Linked DNA regions of Homo sapiens: region 2 is linked to region 1. The links come from fine-mapping of genetic effects on gene expression. Tissue or cell type: ovary. Region 1 holds a variant in brackets; the other region holds the start of a gene. All regions are shown on one strand. Distances are from middle to middle.

Region 1 (2,684 bases):
ATGTTCCTGTTGGCAAGGCATCAGGAAGCAGGAAGAGAACATCCTTGCACTTGGGGATCTTTGAGTCTTCAGAGTCGTGGATTGAGGTCCAAGTTGATGACAACTCTTGGAAAACCCTCGTACTAGAGATTAGGGTGAGATGGCTGGCCATGTTGGTCTCAGTCTATGACATCCAACACTTCTAGCCCAAGACTTAGGAGGTGAAGGGAATGAGTCATGACTGTACATCTACTACTTACGTTTTCAAGATGAGGATGTCCTTTGTTTCTACGGACAGACACCCTCTAGGAACCCTTGAATTTCATCTTTGTATTCTGCAGTCAATATCGCCAAGTGTCTCTTGAACTTGCTAACAAGAAGAGACCAGAGGTGAGTTGACACTGCCGTTCTCTTCTTTTCTGAAGAAATAAATAAATAGAAGTTATTCGAGCTACGTCTCTTCAGCCTAGTTCCCTGCAGGACAAGATGCACTGAGATGCCTAGGATGGTTAATATAGATGTTTAGACTCTCCAGGCAATGACCCTTTTAGCCATAGAGCCTGAGTGTGGCCAACTCAGGTGGAAAACACTCATAGGGCGCACTCAGCTGTGTGCTGGACTGAGTGAGGAGGCAATCATGATTTGGAGTCCTTGCTCCCAGGCCCTGCAGAGTCGAGAGGGAGGGGTAAAGATGTACACAATAGCTCAAATACAAAGCACGTGCCATGGTAGGGGGCTCAAATGAAGAGACAGTTATATCCAATTGGTATAAGTCAGTGGTTGGGGGCATGAAGTACAGCATCAAAACAGGCTTTGAAGAAAGAGTAAACTTTGAGGTGACATTTGGACGATGGTAGGATTTTTATTGTTTATTTGCTCACTTATTTTTTTAAAGAAATGATATCTTGCTATGTTGCTTAGGCCAGCCTCGAACTCCTGGGGTCAGTGATCCTCCCAACTCAGTCTCTGAAGCAGCTGGGACTACAGGCATGTGCCATTGCACCTGGCTATTCACTGTTTTATTTCTGATACTTTTAAATAATAAAAACAATACAGTTCATTATAGCAAATATAAGAAGCATAAAGAAGAAAATTAAAATACTCATAATCCCAGCACCCAGAGAGAAAACACAAGTAACATTTTGATGTATTCTTCCAGATTTTTATTGATGTGTGTGTACACACACACACACACACACACACATATGCACATACATCTGCACACATACACATATATATTTCACAAAATTGGGCTTATACTGAATAAATACTTTTGAAGTCTACTCACTTAGCAGAATAATGGGTTTTCACATATCATTAAATATTCTTCAAAGACATGATTTATAAAGTTATGCAT[G/A]ATTGTCCAGTAAGTTAACTATTTTCCAATACGACATTCAATTTGTTTCTATTTTCTCATAATAATGAATAATAATGAATAATGTTTTGCTTAGCTTTCTTATACATAAAGCAAATAGAAAAGCTTTTTCTCTACAGAGATCGGAGTGCAGGTGGAGGTGGTGGGTAGAGGCCACTCCAGAAAGAGAACTCAGGGTGAGTGAGTGGGTGGGGACAGAAGGCACAGGGGGTGTGGGAAAAGCAAGCTGTGCTATCTGGCTGGAGAGTTGGTGCTTTTAGGGGAGCAGTGGGACAAAAACAGAGGCTGAGGCAGCTTGTAGAGGAGTGGGACTGGCTGAGTGAGAAGCACAGTATCACCTTTACTGAGAGGCAATGGGGAACCACTGATGGGCTTTGAACAGGTTAAGGACAGAATTAGAGAAGTGTTTAAGGCGGTGAATCTGAAAGTGGTGTGAGGGTGGAGTGGAGGAAGGAAGAGGGGGAGAAACTGGAGATGGGAGATGTGTTAGGACCCCTTAGTAGTGTCAAGGCAAGAGGTGGTGAGTGCCTGAACCCTGGCAAGGGCAGCCAGGATGGAAAGGAGGGGTGGTTGGAGGCCATGACTCTAAGACAGAAACTGGTTAGGAATGTGGCCTATGAAGACAGAGGCATCAATAACCTTCTGACTCTGAGCCTTAATAAGTGGGAGAATGGAGAAGGCATAAAGAAATTGAGGCCCAGAAAACACAGTGACGTGTGCAAACTCGTGACCGAGTTAGTTAGAGGTTAAACCAGGCTGGAAGCGAGGTGCCCAGTCTTCCGGTCAGGAAATCATGAACGGCAGATGTTAGAGTTCTCGTGTTAGATGCTAGATGCGGCACATCCTGGAGGATTAGATGTAGTGGATCCTGGAGCCTACGTCTGAAAGCGTATCAACCCAAGGAAAACTCCTGTCAGCTGTGACTCTGGTCCTTAATGTTTATTGGAACATGGGCTGAGCACTGCCCGTGGATTAAGCAAAAGGGGCAAAAATAACAATAATAATAATAATAATAATAATTCAACTTCTAACTTAGTTCTTCAGTAGGCCAGGTCAAATGAGCAGTCATGAAAGAGAAAAAGAGACAAAAAAAGAGAGTCTTGCTCGCCATTTCAAAGGAAGGGCCAGCAATGTGTGTTTTTGCATGGAAAACCTTCTTTGGCTCTCCAGCCAGAGCTGATCACTGATCCTTGGCGGCATCTCCTCTCGAGAGACGCTGGGTTAATGGAGCACATGAGGCCGTCCTGGAAGGCAGTGAACGGTTTTTTCCATTGGGTGAACATCTCATCATACATGTACGCATAGTTCCTTTTTATCTCACACTTAAATT
Region 2 (2,684 bases), 950 kb after region 1:
GCACACCTCTTGAAACCCTGATTTACTGAACACCTTAGAAGACAACACCCGGCCTATCGTTTTGGAAGAAAAAAAAGCTGGGCATCAAAGGAACATGACACACATGCAGAGAAAACGGCCAAGTACCTGGGACTGTACTGCGTATTTTTACTATATTCTCTCTTCTGATTTCCACAGGTAACAAGATTATCAAGTGAAAGAAGTAGGATTCTAATCCAGATGTTCTGACTCGAAATCCAGGACTTTTTCCTCTAAACAAAATCAAGATGGGAATATTAGGTGAAGTTGTTAAACTGTTAACAGCTAAGCAATACTCACACCTGCACTGTTTCCCAAGATTGCTACTTAGGGACACGTAGAAGGGTTTTTGTTTTGTTTTTGCCATTTTTCATTACTGATGGAGACATAAATCTGAAACCCCTTCCTTACCAACCAAGGTTTATGAAATGCCTTGACGTCCTTGAAAGACAACATAAAGAACAGTATCCACCACTCCAAAGAATCACTTCTAAGGAACTTAGAATCACAGTAATGGAAGTGTTTGGAAGAGGGTAACAAGTCTTCACAACAGTAAATATAAAACACCCACATACAGTCAACTTGAGACGAAAAACGAAATAGGCGATTGAGTCTAGGAAAGATTCTCGAGCAGGTAGGGCTTGGCTGCAGTTCACACGCAGCCCAGGCAATGGGCTCGAATTCAGACGCTCTCGAGGCACAGCCCCCACGACCCCCGCTGACCCCTCTTTGCCACCTCCAAGGTCCCGGAACCGAAGGAGGAAGGCAGGGAGAGGAAAGGGCTTGAAACCCGTTCCCCAGCCCTCCCCTTCCTCCGCGCCCTCAAAGGAGCCAGGCGGGGAGCCCGCTCGACCTCGACCTCCACCTCGCACTCGCCCTCGCCCCCGCCACGGAACGTGCAGGAAGGAGCGGAAGGCTGGCAGCCCCACCGCACCGCCACCGCGACTCACCGGTGTGCCCCGAGTACCCCTCAGACACTTACCCCACTTATCCAAGCCTCAGGCCACGCCCTAACAAGGCTGCTGGAGCTCTGGCTCAGGGGCCAACTTTTCCATAGCGGGGTCCAACCAGCCAAGAGTGGGAGGAAAAGACCGCGGTGAGAAACACAGCCGACGCCTCACTCAGCGGCCGTTTCCCCAAACCCCTGCGGAGCTGACACATCAACAAAGATGGCGGCGACACTGAAGCCGGCCCGGTTACAGCTGAGGGGGCGGGGGCTCCCTGGAGGAACCAATCAGCGCAGCGCGGGCGGGGTGACGCAGCACACCTTGAGGTCCTGGGTAACCTGTCTGCAGTGGGCTGGGCTGGCGGAGCTCACCTCCCACCTCCCGGCCCAGGAGGCCCCACCTTGCGGCCCGAGAGGCCCCGCCCCGCACTCCGCCTGGCTGGGCACCCACGCCTCCGCGACCTGGAGAGCCGGGTCTCCTGCCCTTTGGTCGGGTTCTTCCTTTCAAGCTCCTCCGGACCCACGCAGCCTGTTTCTTTCTGCAGGACGCTCTTGTTGGCTATTACTCCTCCTCACCCTTTGGCCTGCATGAGTCAGGGACATAAAGCAATAAAAGAGAATTTGAAATTGTGGCTTCCCGGCTCTCATGCGGAAACCTTGCACCTTACGTGGGCGGAGTCGGCTGGAGCAGGCTACGATGGGGGAGACCTCTGGGGGTTCCATAACAGCGCGTTCGTGTCTTCAGCGTGGCGCTGCTGCCATTGTTTAATAATAAACTGTCGGTGCCTTCGTCTCTGGCTTCAAGCTGAGCGCATTGATGGTAGGAAGTGTCCTCTCCCGGCTGAGTAACCTGGCACGCAGCATGGCAACAAAAAGTGTATTGGGTACAGTTGCCTCGCCCGGCCCAGAGAAGGAAGGTCAGCAGTTCAGTCTCTGGAGGTTTCGCAAACCTCCTCAGTCCGGGGAAACGATGTTCTTTGGTTTAGGTCTTACACATATCTCATGAATGAAAATAGCTGATGCAGACGATTCTGCAATGTAAGAATTTGTAAAGCAAAACTTACTACTGTTCTGTTAAGCGTCTTCGATACTGTTGGCAAAACACACACACGGAGGTGTAATGGCACCTCACTCCTCCTTAAATGAAGGTACTACACTGAAGCACATTTTGCAGTTAAAGTGTCTTGTCATAGAAAATAAATGATTTGACTTTAAAACAATAAATCGACCAAGCCTTCCTAGGGAGACATTAATCCAAGGGGAAAAAACTGAAGAAACCTTAAGCTGTTTTCGGTACTCGTCAGTAATAACATAGGTATTACTATTTCTGAATATTTCTGAATTTATAATTAGTATAAAGTATATAAATATATCTTTGTGAACCAAGTTTTTCACCATAAGAGAAAAGAAATACAAATATAAACCAAAGACATTATATTAAAATTCTGCAATCCTATATTTGAATTTACAAATATCAGAATTAACTCATGGTACATTTTTTTCGTGAAAAAAAAGGTGTGTCCACTGAAAACTCTTAGAACAGTGACCAACCCATTGCACACTCCTATTCCCCAGATTGTGATCTCTAAAGAGCATTGCCCAAAAAAAGTTACCTTGGCTTCTCTTGGAGGTTAAGTGCTGATTCCCAGTAGGGGCAAGAAATATGCAAGATAGCCTAGGACATATTGCTTGTAGCAGAAAGCAAGGAAGAAAAGCAAAG

Direction of the effects. Alleles are on the strand shown, and positions count from the first base shown. SD is a standard deviation of normalised expression in the study named.
With allele A in place of G in region 1, the expression in ovary of the gene that starts at base 1,189 in region 2 is lower (moderate effect, 0.57 SD a copy in GTEx).

Evidence for each region. PIP is the estimated chance that this variant, and not a neighbour inherited with it, causes the effect.
Region 2: it holds the start of CCDC186, and the variant in region 1 is fine-mapped to the expression of CCDC186 in ovary (GTEx, PIP 0.98).

What each region holds. Positions count from the first base shown.
Region 1 is chr10:113,223,947-113,226,630 of GRCh38, forward strand. No RefSeq gene overlaps it. Among named protein-coding and RNA genes, the nearest start is that of SNORA87, 180 kb to the left of the region's middle. The variant G/A (reference allele first, on the strand shown) is at 1,337.
Region 2 is chr10:114,173,015-114,175,698 of GRCh38, forward strand. It overlaps CCDC186 (coiled-coil domain containing 186), which reads right to left and starts at 1,189. Exons shown (of 16, transcript NM_018017.4): 1 at 1,001-1,189. MIR2110 (microRNA 2110) reads right to left here and starts at 1,165; the gene lies at 1,091-1,165. It also overlaps a transcript of TDRD1 not described here. RefSeq lists enhancers at 871-1,399, 995-1,194 and a silencer at 1,255-1,524.